Homo sapiens: one gene and its partners. The protein of the gene in region 6 purifies or fractionates together with the protein of the main gene of each other region. This does not show direct contact. Each region holds a gene or a part of one and is shown on either strand. Other genes may lie near its edges. The genes, in order: GCN1, MGA, DEF6, EPB41L4B, CAMSAP3, WAPL and WDR48.

Region 1 (3,500 bases), on a different chromosome or scaffold from region 6:
TGACCAGCAAGCAGAAGGAGATGCTGCAGGCCCAGCTAGACAGGGAGGCGCAGGTCCGGAGGCGGCTGCAGGAGGTGAGTGGCCACCTCCGCCACATGCTCAAGCCGGAAGAGTGCTGGGCAGCTTGGTCCTGCTGCTTGCTGTCACAAGCAGGGCCCTGCTGACCTGCCTTCTGGACAACTCTGCTTGCAGCTGGATGGGGAGCTGGAGGCGGCGCTTGGACTGCTGGACATCATCCTGGCCAAGAACCCGTCCGGCCTGACCCAGTACATCCCTGTTTTGGTCGACTCTTTTCTGCCCTTGCTGAAGTCTCCCCTGGCTGCTCCCAGGATCAAGAACCCCTTCTTGTCCTTGGCTGCCTGTGTCATGCCCTCTAGGCTCAAGGCTTTGGGTTAGTCCTTGTTTGCTGGCTGCAGGGATGGCCCAGGGGTGCCCCTGAGTGCTTGGACAGGGTGTGCCCCTGAGTGCTTGTGGGGAGGTGGGTGGTGACCTCAGCTGCTGAGTTTTGTTTTCTTGTGGAAGCAGCCTTGGAGACTCAAGCTGGATATGCTTAGGAGAGACGTAGTGCCTCCTCTTCTCTCCCACTTCACATCTGTGCCCTCCCTCTGAGGAGTAGGTTTTAGATGCTAGTCAGTGTTCGATCTTTGTATACCAGTTTTAAAACTAAGAAGTCAGAAGTTCAGTGGCAGTGAGGATGGTTTGGTGGCTCAGCCCAGCCCAGATCTCCTGAACAGCCACATGACAGCAGTGAGCAGAGGCCCTTGAGACCTTTAGCTTCCTCTTAGCTCTGGAGAAACAAACACCAGGTAGGGTGGCTGGCAGTTCTGGTGGCCTTGCTTCTGTGGGTTGTTTAGTGGCCTTCAGCAGACTTCTATCCTGGCCTAACGGTGATGTTCCCACGGGTGAGGCTAGAATCTGGGAACTGTTCTGAGTGGAAAAGTCAGCTGGTGCATATGAAACCTGCCAGAAGTGTCACCTGGCTGTCTGGGCTTGTTGCGTAGAGGTGGAGATGCTGCACAGATAGAGCTGTACTCTTGGCTGAATGACTCTTTGGTGGCCCTTGTCTCCTGTCAGCGTACTCATTTCTTAAATGTCCAAAGGGCAACTCTCTGCCTACCTGCCCTCTGAGGCTGTCACAAAGATCAAGTGAGAAATTAGGCTGGGGACATTTTGGCGAAGCAGAAAGATTTTTTTTTTTTTTTTTGAGACGGAGTCTTACTCTGTCACCCAGGCTGGAGTGCAGTGGCGCCATCTTGGCTCACTGCCAGCTCCGCTTCCCGGGTTCATGCCATTCTCCTTCTTGAGCCTCCTGAGTAGCTGGGACTACAGGCGCCCGTCACCACGCCCAGCTAATTTTTTGTATTTTTAGTAGAGATGGGGTTTCACCGTGTTAGCCAGGATGGTCTCAATCTCCTGACCTCATGATCCGCCCGCCTCGGCCTCCCAAAGTGCTGGGATTACAGGCATCAGCCACCGCGCCCAGCCGCAGAAATATTTTTTTAAGTCAGAAGGATGAGGCACTGGGTCCCCTGTTTTAGCCTGGGCTGGATTCCACATCTCTGTGTGTCATCTCCTGCTGGGTCTCTCCTCTTCAACACAGGCACTTTGGTGAGCCACGTGACCCTGCGCCTGCTGAAGCCAGAGTGTGTCCTGGATAAGTCCTGGTGCCAGGAAGAGCTGTCGGTGGCTGTGAAGAGGGCGGTGATGCTGCTGCACACCCACACCATCACCAGCAGGGTGGGCAAGGGGGAGCCAGGTAAGGGCTGGGACGGGATCAGGGGCACCAGGCGGTGTGAGCTGGTGCCAGGAATGCTGCTCAAGGCACAGCGTCACCCAGGGCCTCCTGAGCCTGGGGGATTGGACCATATGGAGGATTTCTGAATTGAACCTTCGTAGTCTGTGAATTGCAGTGAGCCCAGTTGAGGGTTTACTTTTTGTCACTGGTGTCCCCATCTCTGTTTTAACTCTCACATCCTGGAACTGGGCAGTGTTTGGCAGTAGAAGCAGAATTGGTTTTAGAACTGGACTACCAGCTGCTGTCTCTGTCCTCGTGCCATGTGCTTCCAGGTGTCAGAACGGGCCTCTGGTCCATCCGTTCCCTACTTTCCCTGAGGATAGAAATAGGCAGCAGTGGCCCGGGTCCCTGCCCTGCCTGCAGAATCTTATCTGCTTCTCGCTCTCACAGGTGCTGCGCCCTTGTCCGCGCCAGCCTTCTCCTTAGTCTTCCCGTTTCTGAAGATGGTGCTGACGGAGATGCCCCACCACAGTGAGGAGGAGGAGGAGTGGATGGCCCAGATTCTTCAGATCCTCACTGTCCAAGCCCAGCTGAGGGCCTCCCCCAACACCCCACCCGGGCGGGTGGACGAGGTTGGCAGGGAAGCTCTGCTCTCCTCTTGGTTTAAAGGGGATCAGGGAGGCAGGGCCTGTGGACACGTTTTGTCTCATGAACAGTTCCTGGTGGGGAAATAGAGAGTGTATGTTTATACCAACAGCAGCCTCACACAGTGTTGTGGGTTTTTTAAGGCAAAAACGGGTCAGACTGCTTCTTTCATGTGATTGTAGACTCTGGCTCTCCTGCCATGCCAGTACATGTCAGTTCACCTGATTGACTTTGTTGGCTGCATGAGATTCTGTGCTATGGATGTACCATGTTTTACTTAACTCTTTACCTGTTGATGAGTTCTTAAGGTTGTTTCTAACTTTTTCCTGTTTTGAACAGCACTGTGATGTGCCCTCTTGTATGTATATGCCCCTTACTTAACCAGTGTGAGCATTTCTTTAGGACAGGTTCATTGGACATGGAATTACTAGATTATATGGCATATTCTGAGCTATACTCTCACCAAGAGTTTTCTTTTCTCAAAGCCTTAATGCAACCTCAGATAGTATTAATATCGTCAGTGATGAGTGAAAGAATGATAATCTCATTTTATTTTGCATTTCATTTAAAGTTGAGTGTCTCTTCATATATTTACGGTCTTTCTGGATTTCATAGTGTGAATTTCAAGCAAGTTTCAGAATTTAGTTTTTAGTTCCTGAGGATCATGGTTGACTGGGGTTAGCACCTGTGGACCTAGTTGTAAACTTAATGAGGTTTCTGTGGTGGGGCCGGTTGTATGATCCAGAATGTTCCCCCGTGGGTGAGAGGATGCCCTGCCGTTGGCCGCCTGGGTTACAGACCTCCCCACAGCCTCATCTCGACTTACCTGCCGTTCTCTCCTAGAATGGCCCGGAGTTGCTGCCTCGCGTGGCCATGCTGCGTCTTCTGACTTGGGTGATCGGGACGGGCTCGCCTCGCTTACAGGTGATGTGGTTTTCAGTTGGCTGTTGCTGTGACTCAGTTCGTGACCCAGACCTCAAGTCCCAGTGTAAAGGGTGGAGTCCTAGTTTCCTTTCAGCCCTTACTTTTGGACTTTGGTAGAAAGACTGCTTTAGAGAGCCAGCCTGACTGTTGTTAGCTAGTGAGGGGTTTTGCTTGGGTCCTGCCACTGGAGCTGGGG
Region 2 (3,500 bases), on a different chromosome or scaffold from region 6:
TTCAAGGGTGAGGTATTTTCTGTAAGAAAGATCAGAAATTAGTTATAGATAAAAGGCATTCAGCTGGGTGTGGTGGCTCATGCCTGTAATCCCAGCACTTTGGGAGGCTGAGGCAGGCAGATCACTTGAGCCCAGGAGTTCAAGACCAGCCTGGGAAACATGGTGAGACCCCATCTCCATCTCTACAAGAAAAATTTTTTTAAATTAGGCGGGTGTGGTGGTGTGCACCTGTGGTCCCAGCTACTAGGAAGGCTGAGGTGGGAGAATTGCTTAAGCCCAGGAGGTCAAGGCTGCAAGCGAGACACTGCACTCCAGCCTGAGCTACAGAGTGAGGCCCTTCTCAAAACAAAACAGCCAAGTGCGGTGGCTGACGCCTGTAATCCCAGCACTTTGGGAAGCCGAGGCAGGTGGATCACGAGGTCAGGAGATCAAGACCATCCTGGCTAACACGGTGAAACCCCATCTCTACTAAAAATACAAAAAATTAGCCAGGCGTGGTGGCGGGCGCCTGTAGTCCCAGCTACACGGCAGGCTGAGGCAGAAGAATGGCGTGAACCTGGGAGGCGGAGCTGGCAGTGAGCCTAGATTGCGCCACCGCACTCTACCCTGGGCAACAGAGCGAGACTCCGTCTCAAAAAAAAAAAAAAAAAAATACCCACACCAGATTTTTTTTGGCTCATACACTGGGCTATCCAAACATTTAAAGAGTAAAAAAGAATATACCATTTTTTTTTTTAATTTTTTTTGAGATGGAGTCTCACTCTGTCACACAGGCTAGAGCACAGTGGTGTGATTTCAGCTCACTGCAGCCTCCGCCACCCGGGTTCAAGTGATTCTCCTGCCTCAGCCTCCCAAGTAGCTGGGACTACAGGTGTGCACCACCACATCCGGCTAATTTTGGTATTTTTAGTAGAGACAGGGTTTCACCATGTTGCCCAAGGCTGGTCTCAAATTCCTGAGTGCAAGCAATCCTCCTGCCTCTGCCTCCCTAAGGGGTGGGATTACAGGCATGAGCCACTGCGCCCAGCCAGATATACCATTCTCTAAGAATATAAGTAACACATAAAATCAATATAACTTTACTTCCAAAATCAAGATGGTAATAAGAAGTTAAGACTAATTTACTTTGGGGTTTTTGTTTTGTTTTGTTTTGTTTTGTTTCAGACAGAGTTTCGTGCTTGTTGCCCAGGCTGGAATGCAATGGTGTGATCTCAGCTCACCACAACTTCCACCTTCCGGGTTAAAGTGATTCTCCTGCCTCAGCCTCCTAAATAGCTGAGATTACAGGCATGAGCCACCACACCTGGCTAATTTTGTATTTTTAGTAGAGACAGGGTTTCTCCATGTTAGTCAGGCTAGTCTCAAACTCCCAACCTCAGGTGATCTGCCCGCCTCAGCCTCCCAAAGTTCTGGGATTACAGGCGTGAGCCACCGCATCCGGCCTACTGTTTCTTAATAGTAATGTATTAATAAGTAAGTGATCTGATGAAAAATAGAGCCTGATGGCCAGGCGCAGTGGCTCACGCCTGTAATCCCAGCACTTTGGGAGGCCGAGGTGGGCGGATCACGAGGTCAGGAGATCGAGACCATCCTGGCTAACACGGTGAAACCCCGTCTCTACTAAAAATACAAAAAAAATTAGCCGGGTGTAGTGGCAGGCGCCTATAGTCCTAGCTACTGGGGAGGCTGAGGCAGGAGAATGGCATGAACCCAGGAGGTGGAGCTTGCAGTGAGCCAAGATCGCGCCACTGCACTCCAGCCCGGGCAACAGAGCAAGACTCTGTCTCAAAAAAAAAAAAAAAAAAAAAAAAAGGAAGAAAGAAAAATAGAGCCTGATTTGACAAAATTAAATTTTACAAAAAATTTCCCATTTATTGGTCTCAGCTAGACCCAACTTCTTAAACCCATCAGTAGAACTGCAGGGAAATCACGAAGTCAAGTATAAGTCTGAAAAGATAAGTTTAAAAAACTACTCATTAAAAATACATGACTATAGACTAATATGCTACCAGGACTGGTAACTTCTCAGGATTTGCATGAGTGTGTATTACAACCAGAAACCAAAATCGAATGTAGTTAATATTCTACTTTTTATACAACCCATCTTTAATTCATTTAATTAAAACTAAAACTGTGGGCTGGGTGTGGTTGCTCACACCTGTAATCCCAGCACTTTGGGAGGCCAAGGCGGGTGGATCACTTGAGGTCAAGAGTTTGAGACTAGCCTGGCCAACAGGGCAAAATCCCATCTCTACTAAAAAATTAAAAAAACAAATTGGGCATGGTGGTGCTCGCTGTAGTCCCAGCTACTCAGGAGGCTGAAGCAGATAATCGCTTGAACCTGGGAGGTGGAGGTTGCAATGAGCTGAGATCACATCACTGCAACTGCAGCCTGGGCGACAGAGCTGTCTCCAAAAAAAAAAAAAAAAAAAAAAAAAAAAAACCACACAAAACTAAAAATGTGGACAAGAGAAGGTGGTCAGTCCACTAAAGTCAACTGATGTATATCTACATTAAGGAAAGCGAAGAATGTCCCTCCTACCTGTGGCCTGGTCTTTTTTTCTGGAAAGAATCAAAGGTTTCCCCCTCCTGTTATTTATAAACATCTGTCCAAGATCTACAGATGATGCAGAAGATCCTTCCTGCTGTTTGCTAATTCTGGGAGATATGTCAAACTCATCTGATCCCATCTTCTTTTTTCTTTTTTGTGCCTCTAGTGCTTGCTGTTTTGCATAAATATACTCTAGCTTCTTCAGGACCACTTCTTCTGTCTTACCTGTAAGTTAACAGAATACATTAGCACTTTCAGCATTACGCCACATAATGAGAAACAGAGTCAACAGAAATCTAGTTGCTTTAACTATATTCCCAAAAACTATGGAAAGTAAGGTGATTACAATTCACAAGAAACAACCCACCACCCAGTCAAAGGATAACTGTGCTGTAAACTGTGGGAGCCAAGCTTTCAATTAAGTATCTGAAAGATCTACTGAGGATTTCTTCTTGATAAAGCTATAATTATGCTCTTTACCAGAGATTATTTACTTATCTCACCTGAAAGAGACGATACTTTCCGTATCAGAATATTCCGTTTTCGAGTCAGGAGATTTTTCTGTCCTATCAATTTGTCTGCCTGATCTGTTAGTCCCTGAATTTCACTGAAGGCCTAGAATACAAATAGTGGTATTATTGAAAATTGATCCACTCTTTCTTTAAACACAGCTAAGGCCTATACAATTTCTCTAATGAAAAAAAACTTAATCTGACATCTTAAGAGAATTTTTAAATTCCATTAACAATTGTTGATGTTTCAGAAATTATTTTTTGTTAAACTGTAAGAGGATTTCTGGCTTACACTTTTAAGGAATGTGACCATGATTATTTCCAAAGAGCATCACTGAATGGTAGTAGGTATTCCACCACTGCGAGGAGATACAAAACACCTGTGCTCTGCTTAGATTTTAATAATCAACTTTAAGATCAACTCCTAGTCTAACCAA
Region 3 (3,500 bases), on a different chromosome or scaffold from region 6:
TTGAGACTTTGCCTCAGTGTCCTCCTGGGGCTCAGTTTTCCTTGGCAAACTGGGAAGTGGGAGATCCCAGGAAGGGAGTATTTCCTTTTTTTCCCTCATTTCCCTCTGGGCAGTTATCCCTGGAGTTTTTGGTTATGTGAGCCAATAAATCCCCTCTCCCTTAAGCCATTTGAGTTTGGTTTTATCACTAATTCCAGGAAAGTCTTGCCTAACACATCTGTGGTCATAGAATACCAATCCCCACTCTAAGGGGTGCCACTGGCTCAATGCCTAGCACTTAAAACCCAGGGTGACCACCTCAAGAGAATAATGCCAACATCCACTGACCACTTCTGAAGTGACAAGTGTTCAAGTTTTATATATTCTCATCTGCTGTCTCTTGGCCTCTTTTCAAACTACCCGTGTCCTTATCTTTTTTTGAGACGCGTTCCAAATCTGCCGCCCAGGCTAGAGCGCAGTGGCGCGGTGTTGGCTCACTGCAACCTCCGCCTCCCAGGTTCACGTGATTCTCCTGCCTCAGCCTCCTGAGTAGCTGGGATTGCTGACGCGTGCCACTATGCTCGGCTAATTTTTGTATTTTTAGTAGAGATGGAATTTCGCTATGTTGGCCAGGCTGGTCTCAAACTCCTGACCTCAGGAGATCTGCCCGCCTCGGCCTCCCAAAATGCTGGGATTACAGGGCGTGAGCCACTGCGCCCGGCCACCCCAGCATTTCTAATCATCCAACCTACAGACACTCATGGGAGAGATACAAGAATGCTCATTAAGCATTGTTTATAATATGAAAAAATGGAGACAAACTGAGGCTCTTCCAGTAGGAAACAGGTATACCATGTCAGGAACCACTGTATGTAGCTGGAAAGATTTCACTTTTCCCACTTGTGTGCTCATGGGCAAATGTTTAATTCTCCAACACCTTAGTCTCCTCCTCTGTGAGGATAATGATAGGGTCTGCTCCAAAGGCTGTTTTGAGTGAAGAGTACCTGGTGCATAGTGCACTGCTTAATAAAAGTTGTGGGTGATCTTTGTTATGTTTATATGAACAGACATTGAAAGATATGCATACTACACTGGCATGTAAAAAAAGCAAGCTACAGAATGAAATGTTTGTCAAATACATGTGCAAAGATTAGGTCGAATTATATGAAACTAGTATTTCAGTAGGTCAAAACAATCAAGTGTCAGAAATTTCATATGGTTCAACCTGTTTATTTGTATACAGAAAGAATCTAGAAGACTCACAAACTGTTAACAGTGATCACCTCTCCAGAGTGAGGGGAGAAACTTTCATCTTTTTTTTTTTTTTAAGACAGAATTTCACTCTTGTTGCCCAGGCTGGAGTGCAATGGCGTGATCTCGGCTCACCGCAACCTCTGCCTCTCGGGTTCAGGTGCTTCTCCTTCCTCGGCTTCCCGAAGAGCTGAGATTACAGGCGCCCGCCACCATGCCTGGCTAATTTTTGTATTTTTAGTAGAGACGGGGTTTTGCCATGTTGACCAGGCTGGTCTCAAACTCCTGACCTCAGGTGTTCCGCCCGCCTCGGCCTCCCAAAGTGCTGGGGTTACAGGCATGAGCCACCGCGCCCGGCCAACATTATATTCTTCTTTACTTCAAAATTTTTTTGGGCCGGGTGCAGGGGCTCACGCCTGTAATCCCAGCACTTTGGGAGGCCGAGGCAGGTGGATCACCTGAGGTCAGGAGTTCGAGACCCACCTGACCAACATGTTGAAACCCTGTCTCTACTAAAAATACTAAAAATTAGCCAGGCATTGTGGCAGGCGCCTATAATCCCAGCTACTTGGGAGGCTGAGGCAGGAGAATCAGTTGAACCCAGGAGGCAGAGGTTGCAGTGAGCCGAGATTGTGCCATTGCACCCCAGCCTGGGCAACAAGAGTGAAACTCCATCTAAAAATTAAAACAAAAACAAAAACAAAAAAACAAATTTGGCCAGGCGCAGTGGTTCACACCTGTAATCCCAGCACTTTGGGAGGCCCAGGTGGGCGGATCACTTGAGGTCAGGAGTTCAACACCAGCCTGGCCAGCATGGCGAAACCTCATCTCTACTAAAAATACAAAAATTAGCTGGGTGTGATGGCAGGCGGCTGTAATCCCAGTTACAGGGAGGCTGAGGCAGGAGAATTGCTTGAACCTGGGAGGTGGCGGTTGAGGTGAGCCAGGAAGGATAGTGCCACTGCACTCCAGCCTGGGTGGCAGAGTGAGACTCTGTCACACACACACATACACACACACACCCCCACAAAAAAAAAATTACCACTAACATGTTTTAATTTTATAATAAATTCATTTTTATTTTTGTTTATTTATTTAGAGACGGGGTCTCACTCTGTTGCCTAAGCTGGGGTGCAGTGTCACGATTTCTGCTCACTGCAGCTTCCGCCTCCCAGGCTCAAGCGATCCTCCCACTTCAACCTCCCGAGTAATTGGGACTACAGGCATGTGTCACCATGCTCAGCTAAGTTAAAAAATTTTTTTGTAATACCAAAATTAGCCGGGTGTGGCGGCACACTCCTGTAGTCCCAGCTACTCAGGAGGCTGAGGTGGGAGAATTGCTTGAGCCCAGGAAGTCAAGGCTGCAGTGAGCTGAGATCGTGCCACTGAACTCCAGCCTGAGTGACAGATCCAGACCCTGTCTGGAAAAAAAAAAAAAAAATTCTTTTTTTTCATAGAGATGAGTTCCCATTATATTGCCCAGGCCATGGTGGCTCATACCTGTAATCCCAATGCTTTAGGAGGCCGAGGCAGGAAGAGCCCTCCTGGGCTCAAGAGATCCTCCTGCCTCGGCCTCCTAAAGTGTTGGGATTACAAGTATGAGCTACCACAGCGCAGCCCCGAATTTCTTCATTAACATTATATTCTTCTGTGTGTTTTCTTTTTTTAAACCAGGAGAATATATTGTCTTTAGGATAAAATTTAAAACAATAGGGATGAAAAAGGGTGCCATTAACCCAGTTATTAATTTGCCCTATTAAGTTGCTCTATAATAATATTCTTTTGCTGTTCACTGTTTGTGTGAGCATTTCTGGGTGTTCTACATTCCTTGAGGGCAGCAATGACTCTAATCTCAACCTTGACTCCAAAGATAGTATAATGTCCCCCATTCACTGAATGTTTCTGACTGACTCCTAAAGTCTAACTCAAATGCTCCAATGGTTTCCCATAATTTTCAGAGTAAAAGTTCGAGTCCTTCCACAGGCCTCCAGGCCCCATGTGACCTGGCCTGCTGCACCTTCTCTGACCTCATCCCTCTTGTTTACTTGCCTCCAGCCATTCTGCCTTCTTAATGTTCCTCCAGCAGGTCAGGCATATTCTTGCCCAAGGGCCTTTGCACTTACTGTTCCTGCAGCCTGGAATATTTCTCTCCAGGTCACTGCATGGCTCAAACCCTTTCCTCCTCCCTGTTTTTACTTAGATGACACCTTCTCAGGGAATATATATTCCCTGACCAGGTGGAATATCCTCTGATCACCTTATCTTTTGAG
Region 4 (3,500 bases), on a different chromosome or scaffold from region 6:
AGGGTGTGTGAACAGTTCTGGCACAGTGCTGGCCAACAGAACTTTCCAAAATGATCCTGTGTCCTGTGTCTATATTGTCTAATATGGTAGCCACTAGCCACATGTGGCTTCTTGGCCGCTTGAAATATGACTAGCGATACTGAAGAATTACATTGTAAAATTTATTTCATATTCATTAACTTAAATTGCCACGTGTGGCTAGTGCCTACTGTATTGAACAGCACAGCTCTGACTAAATGTCAGTTATTAACAATTTTGTTATTAGTTCCATTTTATCAATGACCAGGTGGGGGTCAAAAGAGCTTCAGTTACTCACCTTAAGAAACGTGGGGATGGGACACACAACCTAAGTTTCTGGACTCAAATCCACTACTCTATTCGCATACAAGAAAGAAATCACAGTTGCCCTCCTTCAGAAGACGTGATCCGTGTTGCAGAAATGGCTCCCTACCTGAATCTGAAGCGAGAGCCCAGCCTGATAAAGTCGGATCTATTGGATTTGCTGTTTCCTGGCGTCCGCAGTCGGAAGAATGCGTGGTGCTCAACTGCACACTTCCAAAGGTGTTTGCAGGTCCTGGCACTGTCTAACCGGAACACAAACGTGTGCTCTTGCTCACGTCCCTTAAAGAGGAAGCACAAGGGCCTCGAGTGGGCGTTTGCAACCCCAACACAGGATTTTCACAGCAAGGGGGAAGAAATGGGAGCCAGGCCTACCTGATCATCATCCTCGACCACCACGAGTGTCAATTTGCTCTTTTTAAAATCCATTTTGGTAATTTTAGGCCTAGTCAGACAGAAAGCATTTTAAAAGCACAATCTGCAGTAAAACTATCTACACATCAAATAGCAGTTTCCTTTCTACTTTTAAAGCTTAGACTAAAAAAAAAATAAAAACATTCATCCAAGTGTGATTATCCAGAAGTTTCAGCGCAACTGCCACAGACCCACAACAGCAGCACCGTGTGCTCTGAGGATGAATCTGGGTGTTGCAGATACCCCTCAATAATCATCCATCACATAGAATTCCACCACAAAATAGGAAAAGACATTTTTAATATTAGACAAAACTAAATTACCAAAAGAATAAGCCTATTTTGTTAGCTCCTTCAAAGATTAATATGCCTGTCGGGGTCAGTCCAAGAGAATATTCACAGCCATCTCTTCCCTACAAACAAACGAAGTGACAATCGGTAGAGGGTTCTAACAGGTCGTCACACAGCAGAATGCAAAATGCAAAAACAGTTTCCTCACCACAAGTTATTTTGTTTGCATAATGTTCATACATTTTTCAGTAACAGCAAAACCAAATTACTTAAACGCACACAGTTCTTACCCTGACAACGTGCATGTCTACCCCATACATTTCCAGCCACTTCGCTTTATTCAGATAGGAGAGTTCCGCCTGGGCAGGGCTCTTTCCCCTTAGAAAAACCAATGGAAATACATGTAAACTGCGACTCGTAAGCCCACAGGATTCTGAAGGGCACGGCCTTACTATGGAACGTTATGCAGCAATTAAAGCAATGAGGGATGCCAAATTATAGTAATACAAAAAGATTCCCAAGACCTTACTGTTAATTGACTAGAAAGACCACAGAACAGGCTGGGCGCAGTGACTCACGCCTGTTATCCCAGCACTTTGGGAGGCCAAGGTTGGTGGATCACTTGAGGTCAGGAGTTCGAGACCAGCCTGACTAACATGGTGAAACCCCATCTCTGCTAAAAATACAGAATTCGCTGGGCGTGGTGGCACATGCCTGTAATCCCAGCTACTTGGGAGGCTGAGGAAGGAGAATCACTTAAACCTGGGAGGCGGAGGTTGCAGTGAGCCAAGATCCAAGATCGTGCCATTGCACTCCAGCCTGGGCAACAAGACTGAAACTCCATCTCAACAACAACAACAACAAAATCACAGAACAGTGCTTACAATATGATCACTTAAGGAAACAACAAAACAAGTTGTATATGTAAATGCAAAAGGAAAAGACTACAGGCTGCCAATGATGGCTTCCTGCAGGGAGGAGAGTGGATGTGTAAGTGTGTGGGTGGGGTGTGCCATACCCGCAGACATTTACGTTGTTTCAGTGTTACACAATGAGAATGGACTAATGCCACCTTCCACTAAAATAGTCACAGGAGCTTTTCAGAATGACTGAGGGATAAGAGAAAGTCATGCTAAGCTCCAGAGTCCAAGGGTGACCTGGAGGAGGCAGTGTTTGGGGAAGATGGGATGGGAGGGAGGAAAGGTTAACATCTAGGAAACCCGTGAGTGAGGGGTGGCGTTGGTAGTCCAGGCATGAAAGTGGTGCCTGCAGGGGGAATGGAGGGAAAAAACAAAGGGGATAAATGACACTGCTGGATTTAGGTATGATGATCACACTTCCTGAAATGTAACACTGTACAGCACACGGTCTCAAATATGTATGTTCCTATACAACAGGGTATATTTCTAAATTTAGGGCTTGTTTCAGAAGGTTCAGGCCCTGAGGTCCCAGAGATGCAGGTATGTGAGAGTGCCTGGGATGCCCTGGGGTGTCACTAAGACAGTGGTGGCTCCCCCATCCGCAATAAACAAATCAGAACCAGGCTCTGTTTGCAGAGAGAGAAAAGGAGTGTGGTTTGGTTCTTGCTGCACATCTCTTAAGAGACAGACGGCCAGGTGTGGTGGCTCCTGCCTGTAATCCCAACACTTTGGGAGGCTGAGGTGGGACAATCACTTGAGCTCAGGAGTTTGAGACCAGCCTAGGCAACGTGGTGAAACCTCATCTCTGCAAAAAATAGAAAAATGAGCCAGGCATGGTGGTATACGCCTATAATCCCAGCTGCTCGGGAGGCTGAGGCAGGAGGATTGCTTGAGCATTGGGAGGTCGAGGATTCAGTGAGCCAACATAGTGCCACTGCACTCTGGCCTGGGCAACAGAGCGAGACTCTCTCAAAAATAAAAAGGACAAGATGTGGGCCTTTGGAAAAACAGGACTGACACAAGGAGAGAAGAGTTGGCGCTGCAGTTTTATGGCCATCAACAGAACAATTCTACTGGTAGATAAAGGAGTGTGATCAACACTTATTTATGACAAAATAGATACATCAGAATGCTAGACGGTTGCATCAAGGTACCTGCACTCTTTCCATCTCTGGAAGATATCAAATTCCATTGCTTCTGTCTGATTTGGAATGAACCGAAACTCAGACACAAGCTCTGGTGTGTGTTCTGGAAGCTCGCACTCCCCAAGCTCCGCTGTAAGTTTCATAAAAGGGAGGAAAATAGGAGACATTGAATGATTTCAGTTATTGCTGCAACCAGGTCCAAAGGCATTTTGCATCATTATAAAGCACAGCCCCCCGCCCCAATGTATAACTCTCTCCTTTCGGGAAGACTTAACTCTCACTTGGGTAGTCATATGTACACTCAAAATCCTAGAAGCATTCTAATGTCCTCCCTGTTGGGTGATACAGCATCATCCTAGTTATTACTGTCTTTCTCTCCACTGTTGTTCCCA
Region 5 (2,971 bases), on a different chromosome or scaffold from region 6:
CCTCCCGGCACCCCTGCTTACATCTCCCTCCCCCTCCCCCCTTACCCATGGGGGCCTCACCCAGTGAGCCCCGGAAAGGGCACTGGGCAGGCCCCGTCCCCCAAGGGTCCTCACCCAGCAGGCCGCGGGCTGGGCTTCGTGCCAGGGCTGAGTCGTCACAGCAACCCGAGCGAGGCCGGGTGGCCCTCCGCCCGCCCCGACCTGGACCCCCGGACCCCGCAGCCCGGGGCCGCAGCACCTTATCGAGGTCGTCCATCAGCTTCAGCTGGGCCCGGCGCTCGTACTCCTGCCGCGTGAAGTCCCCCTTCCGGGGGCCCACCTCCTCCTCGGCTGGAGCCCGGGCAGCAGGGGCTGGAGTCGCCATCGGGACTGCGGACACAAGCGGGGCTGGGCCCGGGGCCTCCTCTTGGGCCAGCCTGCAGATCACAGGGAATCGGCATCAGAACCGCTCACGGGGTCCGCGGTGGCAGACAGGCCAAGGAGCGGGCGTCCCGGGCAGGCCCGGCCTCACCTCGCGGCCTCCTCCCTCCGCTGTTCCTTCTCCACCTCCTGCCACTGCTTGCGCCGCCGCGCCTCCTCTGCTCGCCGCTGCTGCCGCTCCAGCAGGCTGGCCCGCTTTTGGGCCATCTCGTCCTCAGGCTTGTCTTCATCCTGGGGACAGACGCCGAGTCCAGCCAGCCACCCCCTCCCCCAACATGGCTGGAGGCCCATCTTCCCTCCACCCAGCCTGCCCGCCACCCACCTGTGCTTTTGTTTTCATCATTGTTCTAAATGCACTTAGTTGGTGCCTACTGTATGCACAGCCCCACACTAAGTACTGGGACACAACAGGGATGGGATACACTGGGTGCCGCTCACACACACACTGCTTAACCCAACGGGGAAGACAAAAGCAGCAGACAGCAGTGAGTGCCAGCAAAAGCTCGTGTTGGGCACAGACACTCTACACTGCGGGAGGACCCCGGCCTGGCCTGGAGACACCCAGGAAGGCTTCCCAGAGGAAGTACCCTGTAGAATGATCAGGATTTAACTAGGTGGGCGTACAGAGCAGAGCGTTCCAGGCAGAGGGGACAGCTAGTGCCGAGGCCCTGAGGCTGGAGCAAACCTACTGGGGGGCACGGAAGTACAAGGGGGCCAGTGTGGCTGGGACACAGAGCTGAGGACAGTGGCGCAGGACTAAGTCAGAAGTGAGTACAGGCCAGACGCGGTGGCTCACACCTGTAATCCCAGCAGTTTGGGAGGCCAAGGCAGGTGGATCACTTGAGGTCAGGGGTTCGAGACCAGCCTGGAGAAACCCTGTCTCTACTAAAAATGCAAAAATCAGCTGGGCGTGGTGGCATGCTCTTGTAGTCCCAGCTACTCAGGAGGGTGAGACAAGAGAATCACTTAAACCCAGGAGGTGGAGGTTGCAGTGAACCGAGATCATGCCACTGCACTCCAGCCTGGGCCACAGAGCGAGACTCTGTCTCAAAAAACAAAAAACAAAAGAAAACAAAACAAAAAAAAAAAATGAAAAGGAAGTCCTCCCCAGGGCTTTGGGCTGTGCTCACTTTTTTTTTTTTTTTTTTTTTTTTGAGATGGAGTCTCGCTCTGTTGCCCAGGCTGGAGTGCAGTGGCACGATCTAGGCCCACTGCAAGCTCCACCTCCTGGGTTCACGCCATTCTCCTGCCTCAGCCTCCTGAGTAGCTGGGACTACATGCGCCCGCCACCACGCCAGCTAATTTTTTGTATTTTTAGTAGAGACGGAGTTTCACCATGTTAGCCAGGATGGTCTCGATCTCCTGACCTCATGATCCGCCTGCCTTGGCCTCCCAAAGTGCTGGGATTACAGGCATGAGCCACTGCGCCCGGCCACCCTGGGGAGGACTTTCATTCTAAAAGCAAGGGTAAGGGGAGCAGTCAAAATCCCCGACCACTCAGTGCAAAATGGCCCGGGATGGAGGCAGGCAGCAGAGGCCAGTCAGGTAACCCTAGGTGTCCCCGGCTGGGAAAGCCATGGGAATGGAGAGACAGTGGACACAGGGCAGGGCCAGGAAAGGGGTGGTAGGAGCGTGCTGGGGGCGAGGGGGTGAAGGAGAGGATGAGCAAGGAGGTGCGCTGAAGATCCTGGTCCTGTCCGTCTATCTGTCCATCACCCACCCACCCATGCAACCAGCCATTCATCCATCTGTCTATCCATGACTCCTCCCTGTTTCTCCACCCCTCCCCACATCTATCTATCCCCCTTGTCCGGCCACCCATACCTTGTTTGGGAGGGACATGACTGGGTCAGCCCCCACTGGAAACCCCTCACCCCCAAACATACCCGAGGGCCTCACTCATTAAGCCACAGGGGGAGGACCTCTCACCCCACTGCACCCCCACAGCCCCTTGTGGAAGTCCTTACCCAACAGACAGGGTCAAATCCCATCTGAGGCCCCTGTCACCCCACATACCTGCCCCCCACCGTGCAAATGTCCCTTTCCCCCCTCTCCCACCCATGGAGGCCTTACCCAGCCACTCACACCTGTTCTGTCCATTCATACCTGGCTCCCCATCTATCCCCCACCCGCCCACCCATCCTTCAGTAAAGCCCTATTCATCCAATAGTGGGTTTGTCCACCTCCCCCCGCCCCCACCCGCCCCCGCCCCAGGCCCAGGACCCTCCAGCCACCTGCTCGGGGACTCACCTTGTAGAAGAACCCCAGCCCCACCCGGGGCTCCCCCTCCGAAGACGCCTCCTCCTCCAAGGAATCCTCAGCACCAGCGGGGCTCCCGTCTCCCTCGTCCTCGGCGGCGGGATCTGCCAGGCTGCCCAGCGGGATCTCGATGAGGCCCGGCCGGGCGGCTGGCTCCTCGGGGGGCGTCTCCTCCGCCAGGAGGATGGAAGAGCGCGTCTGCACGGGCACCTGGCTCGGCGAGAACTTGCGCAGGTGGGGGAGGCTGTCTACGTCGTGGGGTGGCGTAAGCACCCTGGTCAAGGGTGCCAGC
Region 6 (3,500 bases):
TGGAGTGCGTGGCTACTCACACAGGTGTGATCATAACAGCAGCCTCAAATGAACCGCTGGCCACAGTGCCCTGGGTAGCTCTAGGTGGGACTATAAGCACGTACTGCTATGTCCCTGTTATTCCTTTTTCTTTTTTTTTTTGAGACTGAGTCTCGCTCTGTCGACGGGGCTCACTGCCACCTCTGCCTCCCAGGTTCAAGCGATTCTTCTGCCTCAGCCTCCCAAGTAGCTTGGACTACAGGTGTGTGCTACTACGCCCGGCTAATTTTTTGTATTTTTTAGTAGAGATGGGGTGTCACCGTGTTAGCTAGTCTGGTCTCGATCTCCTGACCTCGTGATCTGCCCACCTCTGCCTCCCAAAGTGCTGGGATTACAGGCGTGAGCCACCGCACCTGGCCTGATGGTTGCTTTGAGATAAAATAAATTAATAGAAAGTATTTAGAATACTACCAGGCACATACCGAGGGCTTATATAAATATAGTTCAGCTTTGTTTTACTTTGAGTTTTAATTGTGAGTGAAATTGAGTATCCTTCATAAGTTATTTAATTCATTATAGATATATATTTTAATGAATTGCTTCTTTGTGTTCTTGGCTTATTATTTATTCATTTATTTTTGAGGCAGAGTCTTGCTCTGTTGCCCAGGCTGGAGTGCAGTGGTGCTATCTCAGCTCACTACAACCTCTGCCTCCTGGGTTCAAACAATTCTTGTGCCTCAGCCTCCCAAGTAGCGAGGACGACTGGCATGTGCCACCACGCCTGGCTGGGTTTTTTTTGTCTTTTTAGTGGAGACAGGGTTTCACCATGTTGGCCACACTGGTCTCGAACTTCTGGCCTCAAGTGATCTGCCTGACTCGGCCTCCCAAAGAGCCGGCATTATAGGCCTGAGCCATTGTGCCTGGCCCCTAGCGCCATTTTCTACTGGGACATTGGACTTACTGATGTGTAAGGATTCTTGGTATATTAAGGAATTTACCTTTTGTGTTTCCCTAGCAACTAATGATAAGCATTTTTCATGTGTGTATTCTTTTTTTTTTTTGAGATGGAGTCTTGCTCTGTCACCCAGGCCGTGGTGCAGTGGTGTGATCTTGGCTCACTGCAAGCTCCGCCTTCCGGGTTCACGCCATTCTCCTGCCTCAGCCTCCCGGGTAGCTGGAACTACAGATGCCCGCCACCACGCCTGGCTCATTTTTTTGTATTTTTAGTAGAGACGGAGTTTCACTGTGTTAGCCAGGATGGTCTCAATCTCCTGACCTGATGACCCACCCGCTTCGGCCTCCCAAAGTGCTGGGATTACAGGCATGAGCCACCACACCCGGCGAAGTTTGTTTTCTTATCATGACAGCCATTCAGATATTTAAAGGCAGGTTTCATGTAATGGCAGTTTTCTTCCATCCCTGCACCAATTAAACCTTTCTAGTTGCCTCAACTGTATTTCATGGGTTATGGTCTCCAAGCCACTTTGTATCATTTGCACAGATTTCTTACAGGTTAAAGGCATTGTTTAAGTTTAGTCCTCAGCACACCGTGAGATAAACATTTGCTATTTCCACCTCAGCCTCCCAAAGTGCTGGGATTACAGGTGTGAGCCCCCGCGCCCAGCCAGTGAATTAGTTTTGTTGTTGTTGTTCTTTTAAACAGAGTCTCGCTCTTTTGCCCAGGTTGGAGTACAGTGACATGATCTTGGCTCACTGCAACCTCTGCCTCCCGGGTTCAAGCAGTTCTCCTGCCTCAGCCTCCTGAGTAGCTGGGACTACAGGCGCCCGCCACCACGCCTGGCTAATTTTTGTGTTTTTAGTAGAGACAGGGTTTCACCATGTTGGCCAGGCTGGCCTCGAACTCCTGACCTCATGATCCGCCCGCCTTGGCCTCCCAAACTGCTGGGATTACAGGCATGAGCCACCACGCCTGGCCTAGCATTTTAGTGTTTAGCAGCCACCACTAGACGTAGTGTAATATAGTTTGGTATGGGTCTTTTTTATGAAGTCTCTTTTGACTATTGATTTAATTGAGAACCTCTGCAGTCATTAGCCCCTCTGGGCCTTTTTTTCTCATCTGTGTAATGATGGGTTTGGTAAGAAATCAAAGGAAGTATCTTCATTTTCTTATAAGAGGGTAAAGGAAGTCTGTATATATTTGTGTGTATAGACTAGTATACAGTTACACAGATGTATACATTTGTGTGTTTATGTCTACAAAAATAATGTCTATTTGTATCTCCATCTCCATTAAACAGTTCAACTGTTTAATCTTCAACAAACAATTCATTGCCAGTCTTGTTTCATTTTTATCCTCACTAAAGTAAATTCAAGATGTTGTATTTGATTCATAAATATATTTTTTTAACAGATAAGGACTCCAAAAATATACAATTTTGGCATTTTTTATGTTTTGGCTTTTGAATAGACAACTTACATGCAGTATAAAATTCAAGAAGTATGAAAGTCTTTTCTTGTTCCTTATCCCTTAGTCATTCCATCTCTAAGAGCATCCATATCTGTACATAATGTAGAGCTGCCTCATTCTTTTTAACAACTGCATAGTATTCAGGTGTGTTGCTATATGGTAATTTAATTCTTTATTAATTGGTATATTGTTTATGAAAGCAAAAACCAGGAAACAGTGTTCTATTGAGTTTCTTGTTACTTATGTAATTTTGTGTTCGTGGAAAGTTATTTCTAAATACTTGTAAATGAAACTGCTGGCTTCAAGAGTAAGTCCTTTCTTTCACATGTACATTTTTAGTTTTAAAAGATATTACCAAATCTTAACCTGTTAAATTACATTAAAACCCTTTGGAGGCTGGACGTGGTGGCTCATGCCTGTGATTGTAGCACTTTGGGAGGCAGAGGCAGGACGTTTGCTTGAGCCCAGGAGTTCAAGACCAGCCTAGGCACCGTAGTGTGACCCTGTCTGTTAAATAAAAAGGGGAGTTAGGCAGGTGTGGTGGTGCACACCTGTAGTTCCAGCTGTTTGGGAGTGCTGCTCAGGAGGCTGAGGTGGGAGGATCACTTGAGGCCTGGAGGTCTCTGAAGCTGCAGTGAGCTGTGATCACACCACTGTATTCCAGTGTGGGTGACAGTGAGATCCTGTCTTGAGGGCAGGAAAACCTATTGGGTAGAATTAAAAATTATGCAGTGAATCTGTCCATGTAAAGCATCCCTCTCACCTGTATTTGATGATGCTAATTGAGATTTGTAAATAGCTTTTCTTAAATGTAGATGTATTTTGTAGAAGTAATTTTATTGTTTGGCATAGGGTATACATTTTGTCAGTGTTTTTCTACAAGTAAATGTTGAGGGAATTAATAATACCAGTTGGAATCATATTTGTATCTCATTTGGAAAGGTTGTAAAAATGTTCTGATAGTAAAAATTGAAGGCAACAAAAATGAATTCTCCACATACCAGATGAATAGGCAGGCTGAGGATTTATTACTGGCTGATATGCATAAATAGCCACTATTAGCCATTTAACTAACACACCAGAACTACTGCTA
Region 7 (3,500 bases), on a different chromosome or scaffold from region 6:
CTCTCTGACAGGAACATCAGAAGACTGGTTTTCAAGGAAGCATGTCATCCTCATGTGAGAGATTTAAATTCCACATATCATTATGGGTGAATCTGACAGCCAGAACAAAGTCCCTGGCAGGAGGTACTCGCCATTGTTGCTCACTCCTGGTGGCCAGCAGAGAATCTTCAGCAGAGTAAGCCTCAGTCGATGGGACTCAATGATTCCTCAACCAGCTGTAGGTTACACATGAGGATGTGAAATTCTAAGTTCTTGTTTCCCCTTCCTTTGATCAAACTGAGCCAAATGCATATATTCAAAACATGTTCTCCTCTGCTGCTCAGGGAACGTTACTGCCACTGCCTATGGCACACACACGTTTCAGATGTCCTCAGTGACATTAATTCTTTACACATGCTTGAGCATATGCCCTGTCACTTCTGAGTTGGAATTTGAATTTTTTTTTGAAACAGAGTCAAAATCAGGTAGGCCATGAGACTAGGAAATACCAACATTTCAGCCCAACATGAAGAGTGACTATGCAATGACAAACCTGGCTTTCTGATGCAGCTAACTACCTAGCTTTGGAGGTTAATCCAAAAGATCAGAGGTACCTTGAAGAATATTTTGGAAATAAGTCTGTTAAGGTGCCTCATTTTAAGACAAAAGTCATCTGAATATAGAGTATTTTATTTATCTTGAGCAGTCTCACTAAAAGCCATATCATAAGGTGGTCTGCTCTTTTGGAATCTCAGTCTCAGTTAAGACTGGATGGATGTTCCTACTTTGAGATATGGAAGAGAGGACAATAAACTGAGTACACCACAAATATTTTAGCTAACGGTTTAAGTAAGTACCTTTTAGTAAGTACCTTTTAAGTAAGTACCTCTAACTTTTTATGCAACTATCTGAATATAAAAACTAACCATGGTTTACTTCATTTTCCTCTTCATCCATTGGATTCACATGTGTTCTAGGCCAATATTCCAGGAGTGCTTGGAGTAAAAGTCCTCCTAAATTCACTGCAAAAAAGTTAATTAAAAAGAGATAAAATGGAAAAGCGAGTTACTTGGCTTTAACCTAAAAATAGAATAAAAATTGTAAGTTTGTACATATTCTGATGTTACATTCTTAACCCAATGCGAATGATGTCTAAAATAAAGACTTTAGTCATTTTGCCAATTCTGCTAAAATTTTATCTTAGAATGTTTAAAGCAATGATGCTATGGAGCAAAGACATATTCTACTTGGTTGTTCAGATACAGCTATTATTTAAAAACAAACATGAGAATCAGATTTTTTTTTTTTTTGAGATAGAGTCTCGCTCTGTCACCCAGGCTGGAGCGCAGTGGTGCAATCTCGGCTCACTGCAAGCTCCGCCTCCCGGGTTCACGCCATTCTCCTGCCTCAGCCTCCCGAATAGCTGGGACTACAGGCACCCGCCACCACGCCCGGCTAATTTTTTGTATTTTTAGTAGAGACGGGGTTTCACCGTGTTAGCCAGGATGGTCTCGATCCCCTGACCTCGTGATCCACCCGCCTCGGCCTCCCAAAGTGCTGAGATTACAGGTGTGAGCCACTGCGCCTGGCCGAGAATCAGATTCTTTAAACGGCTATTTCCATATGAAATTACTAAAATGATTTGTATACATTAGGTATTTGTACATACCACATTTTTAGGACATAGTCAACAAAATATAGAGAACTTTTACAAAGATAAGTACTTAGCAAAAAACAGCTCATATTCATCTTCTCTTTAGAAGGGAGGAAAAAAATGAAGGACACTTAAACTCACATTTTGGATCTGACCCATCAGGGCTGCTGAAACCAGCATCTTTTGCAGAAACCCAGGCAGCAAAACAATCACTTTCATCCAAAGTAATAGTTAACATCTATCAAAAGAAAAAACTTAGTGGCATCCCATTTGAATATATTCTCCAAACAAGTCTCTAAACCTTCATTTATTTGTACTATTTGACTAAAGTGCTAAGTCATAAATTCAGGAACCAAAATGTGTTTTGTGTGATTCAATGCAACAACACAATTTAGTTTCCTGGGATACCAAAGGCATTTTGTAACTTTTAAATTTTTTTCTTTTTTAATATATTTTTAATTTTGTTTTTTTCTTTTTTATTCCATTTTGCATTTTAAGTTTTAACACAAATTTTTTTTTTCACACCTAAAAACACAGGACTCTGTAACTAATAATAATTATAAGCTATAATGAAAATCTTCAATTATCCCAAATCATACAAGTATCAATTGCTAACTTACCCCTGTTTTTAAGTCTACTGAGAACCAATTTGGCACATACACCATTTTAAATCTTTTCTTAATTTCATCTTCAAAATCCACTTTGCCCAGATCTTCAACTTTACATGCCTATACATCAAAAGAAAGTATAATGATCAATATTAAGTGGTGAATTCACTTGATTCTGACTTTGCTATTCAAAATTTTACATATTTTCACATGTGTCTAAGTGAAACAGTCTAAAATACATTTCAAAAAGAATGTGGTCCTTTTTTAAAATAACAATCTGCTGCTATAAAAAATTTAAATTAAAAAAGCACAAAATAGTATTTGGGAAGAAACTGTATTTAATTGTGCTGATATTGATATAATATACCACCTCATCTTAACAGCAACGTGGCTCTTTCGAGGGTCCCAGTTGTCGGCCATCTTCTCAAAGGGGGACTGCTTATTTTCCCACATCCCATTGTTCCTTGATGCTCCATGGAGACCATTACTCTACCATCTCCCATGTAAAAACTTATTTCTCTGAGGCCTATGTCATTTAGCAACAGTAAACGGTACACCTTTCCTTCACTGCCATCTAGCAACCTGCCACTCTCCCTCATTTACTGGAGACTTGAGCCCTGGGGTCACTGTCTTGCAGTCCATCTCAACTAAATCTCTCTTCTACCTCTGACCTTGCCACCTTCCCCATTATCCTCAGCACATGACTCTGATTCCTTTTTCTCAAAACAAAGAGAAGCCTTGACAGAATCCCCTTAACTTTCTCTATCATTCTCCCTGGTGCAAGGAAAACGGTGTCCCTTCTGACTGTGCTCCGGTCCCCCTCACCTCTTGCTTCTTGGGATGACCTTGTATTGTCATCTACCCATGAATGTCTCTACTGGCTTCTTCCCAGGAGCAATGAAATATGCTCAAATTTCTTACATCTGAAAAATACCCAAATATCCAAACAAAACCAAACAAAATCAAAAGCTTCCTTTGGCCCTCTGACTCCTACATCTTCTCTAGTTTCCGCCGCTTCCTGCCTACCCCTCCAATCAAATTTCTTCAAAGATTATCCAGTCAAATTTTCTGTTTCTTCACCTTCAAATCACTACTCAACTCACTCTACCTGGCTTTTGCCCTTAAGACTCTACCCAGAGGCCACCCTCTTTATTTAAATCCATGATGTTAGTCACATCTTAAATCAACTCACAGCAGGTTAATGCCACTAACCGCAAGCTTCTTCTTGAAACACTCAATTAGTTCTGGAGCTGCCACTG

What was found.
Region 1: the proteins of WAPL (region 6) and GCN1 purify together in Homo sapiens (affinity purification with mass spectrometry, with the first as the bait; one large-scale study listed by BioGRID). This does not show direct contact.
Region 2: the proteins of WAPL (region 6) and MGA purify together in Homo sapiens (affinity purification with mass spectrometry, with the first as the bait; one large-scale study listed by BioGRID). This does not show direct contact.
Region 3: the proteins of WAPL (region 6) and DEF6 purify together in Homo sapiens (affinity purification with mass spectrometry, with the first as the bait; one large-scale study listed by BioGRID). This does not show direct contact.
Region 4: the proteins of WAPL (region 6) and EPB41L4B purify together in Homo sapiens (affinity purification with mass spectrometry; one large-scale study listed by BioGRID and IntAct). This does not show direct contact.
Region 5: the proteins of WAPL (region 6) and CAMSAP3 purify together in Homo sapiens (affinity purification with mass spectrometry, with the first as the bait; one large-scale study listed by BioGRID). This does not show direct contact.
Region 7: the proteins of WAPL (region 6) and WDR48 purify together in Homo sapiens (affinity purification with mass spectrometry, with the first as the bait; one large-scale study listed by BioGRID). This does not show direct contact.

What each region holds. Positions count from the first base shown.
Region 1 is NC_000012.12:120,156,716-120,160,215, reverse strand, and holds part of GCN1 (stalled ribosome sensor GCN1), read left to right. Parts: coding exon 1-74; intron 75-192; coding exon 193-391; intron 392-1,600; coding exon 1,601-1,756; intron 1,757-2,185; coding exon 2,186-2,367; intron 2,368-3,223; coding exon 3,224-3,304; intron 3,305-3,500. UniProt on the Homo sapiens protein: Ribosome collision sensor that plays a key role in the RNF14-RNF25 translation quality control pathway, a pathway that takes place when a ribosome has stalled during translation, and which promotes ubiquitination and degradation of translation factors on stalled ribosomes.
Region 2 is NC_000015.10:41,761,405-41,764,904, reverse strand, and holds part of MGA (MAX gene-associated protein), read right to left. Parts: intron 3,167-3,500; coding exon 3,055-3,166; intron 2,777-3,054; coding exon 2,543-2,776; intron 20-2,542; coding exon 1-19. UniProt on the Homo sapiens protein: Functions as a dual-specificity transcription factor, regulating the expression of both MAX-network and T-box family target genes. Functions as a repressor or an activator.
Region 3 is NC_000006.12:35,304,318-35,307,817, reverse strand, and holds part of DEF6 (differentially expressed in FDCP 6 homolog), read right to left. Parts: intron 1-3,500.
Region 4 is NC_000009.12:109,255,060-109,258,559, forward strand, and holds part of EPB41L4B (band 4.1-like protein 4B), read right to left. Parts: intron 3,239-3,500; coding exon 3,118-3,238; intron 1,422-3,117; coding exon 1,334-1,421; intron 1,166-1,333; coding exon 1,077-1,165; intron 785-1,076; coding exon 715-784; intron 622-714; coding exon 452-621; intron 1-451. UniProt on the Homo sapiens protein: Up-regulates the activity of the Rho guanine nucleotide exchange factor ARHGEF18. Involved in the regulation of the circumferential actomyosin belt in epithelial cells.
Region 5 is NC_000019.10:7,612,863-7,615,833, reverse strand, and holds part of CAMSAP3 (calmodulin-regulated spectrin-associated protein 3), read right to left. Parts: coding exon 2,671-2,971; intron 652-2,670; coding exon 512-651; intron 417-511; coding exon 115-416; intron 1-114. UniProt on the Homo sapiens protein: Key microtubule-organizing protein that specifically binds the minus-end of non-centrosomal microtubules and regulates their dynamics and organization.
Region 6 is NC_000010.11:86,501,293-86,504,792, reverse strand, and holds part of WAPL (wings apart-like protein homolog), read left to right. Parts: intron 1-3,500. UniProt on the Homo sapiens protein: Regulator of sister chromatid cohesion in mitosis which negatively regulates cohesin association with chromatin. Involved in both sister chromatid cohesion during interphase and sister-chromatid resolution during early stages of mitosis.
Region 7 is NC_000003.12:39,083,016-39,086,515, reverse strand, and holds part of WDR48 (WD repeat-containing protein 48), read right to left. Parts: intron 2,362-3,500; coding exon 2,254-2,361; intron 1,872-2,253; coding exon 1,775-1,871; intron 1,002-1,774; coding exon 906-1,001; intron 216-905; exon of another isoform or gene 132-215; intron 1-131. UniProt on the Homo sapiens protein: Regulator of deubiquitinating complexes, which acts as a strong activator of USP1, USP12 and USP46. Enhances the USP1-mediated deubiquitination of FANCD2; USP1 being almost inactive by itself.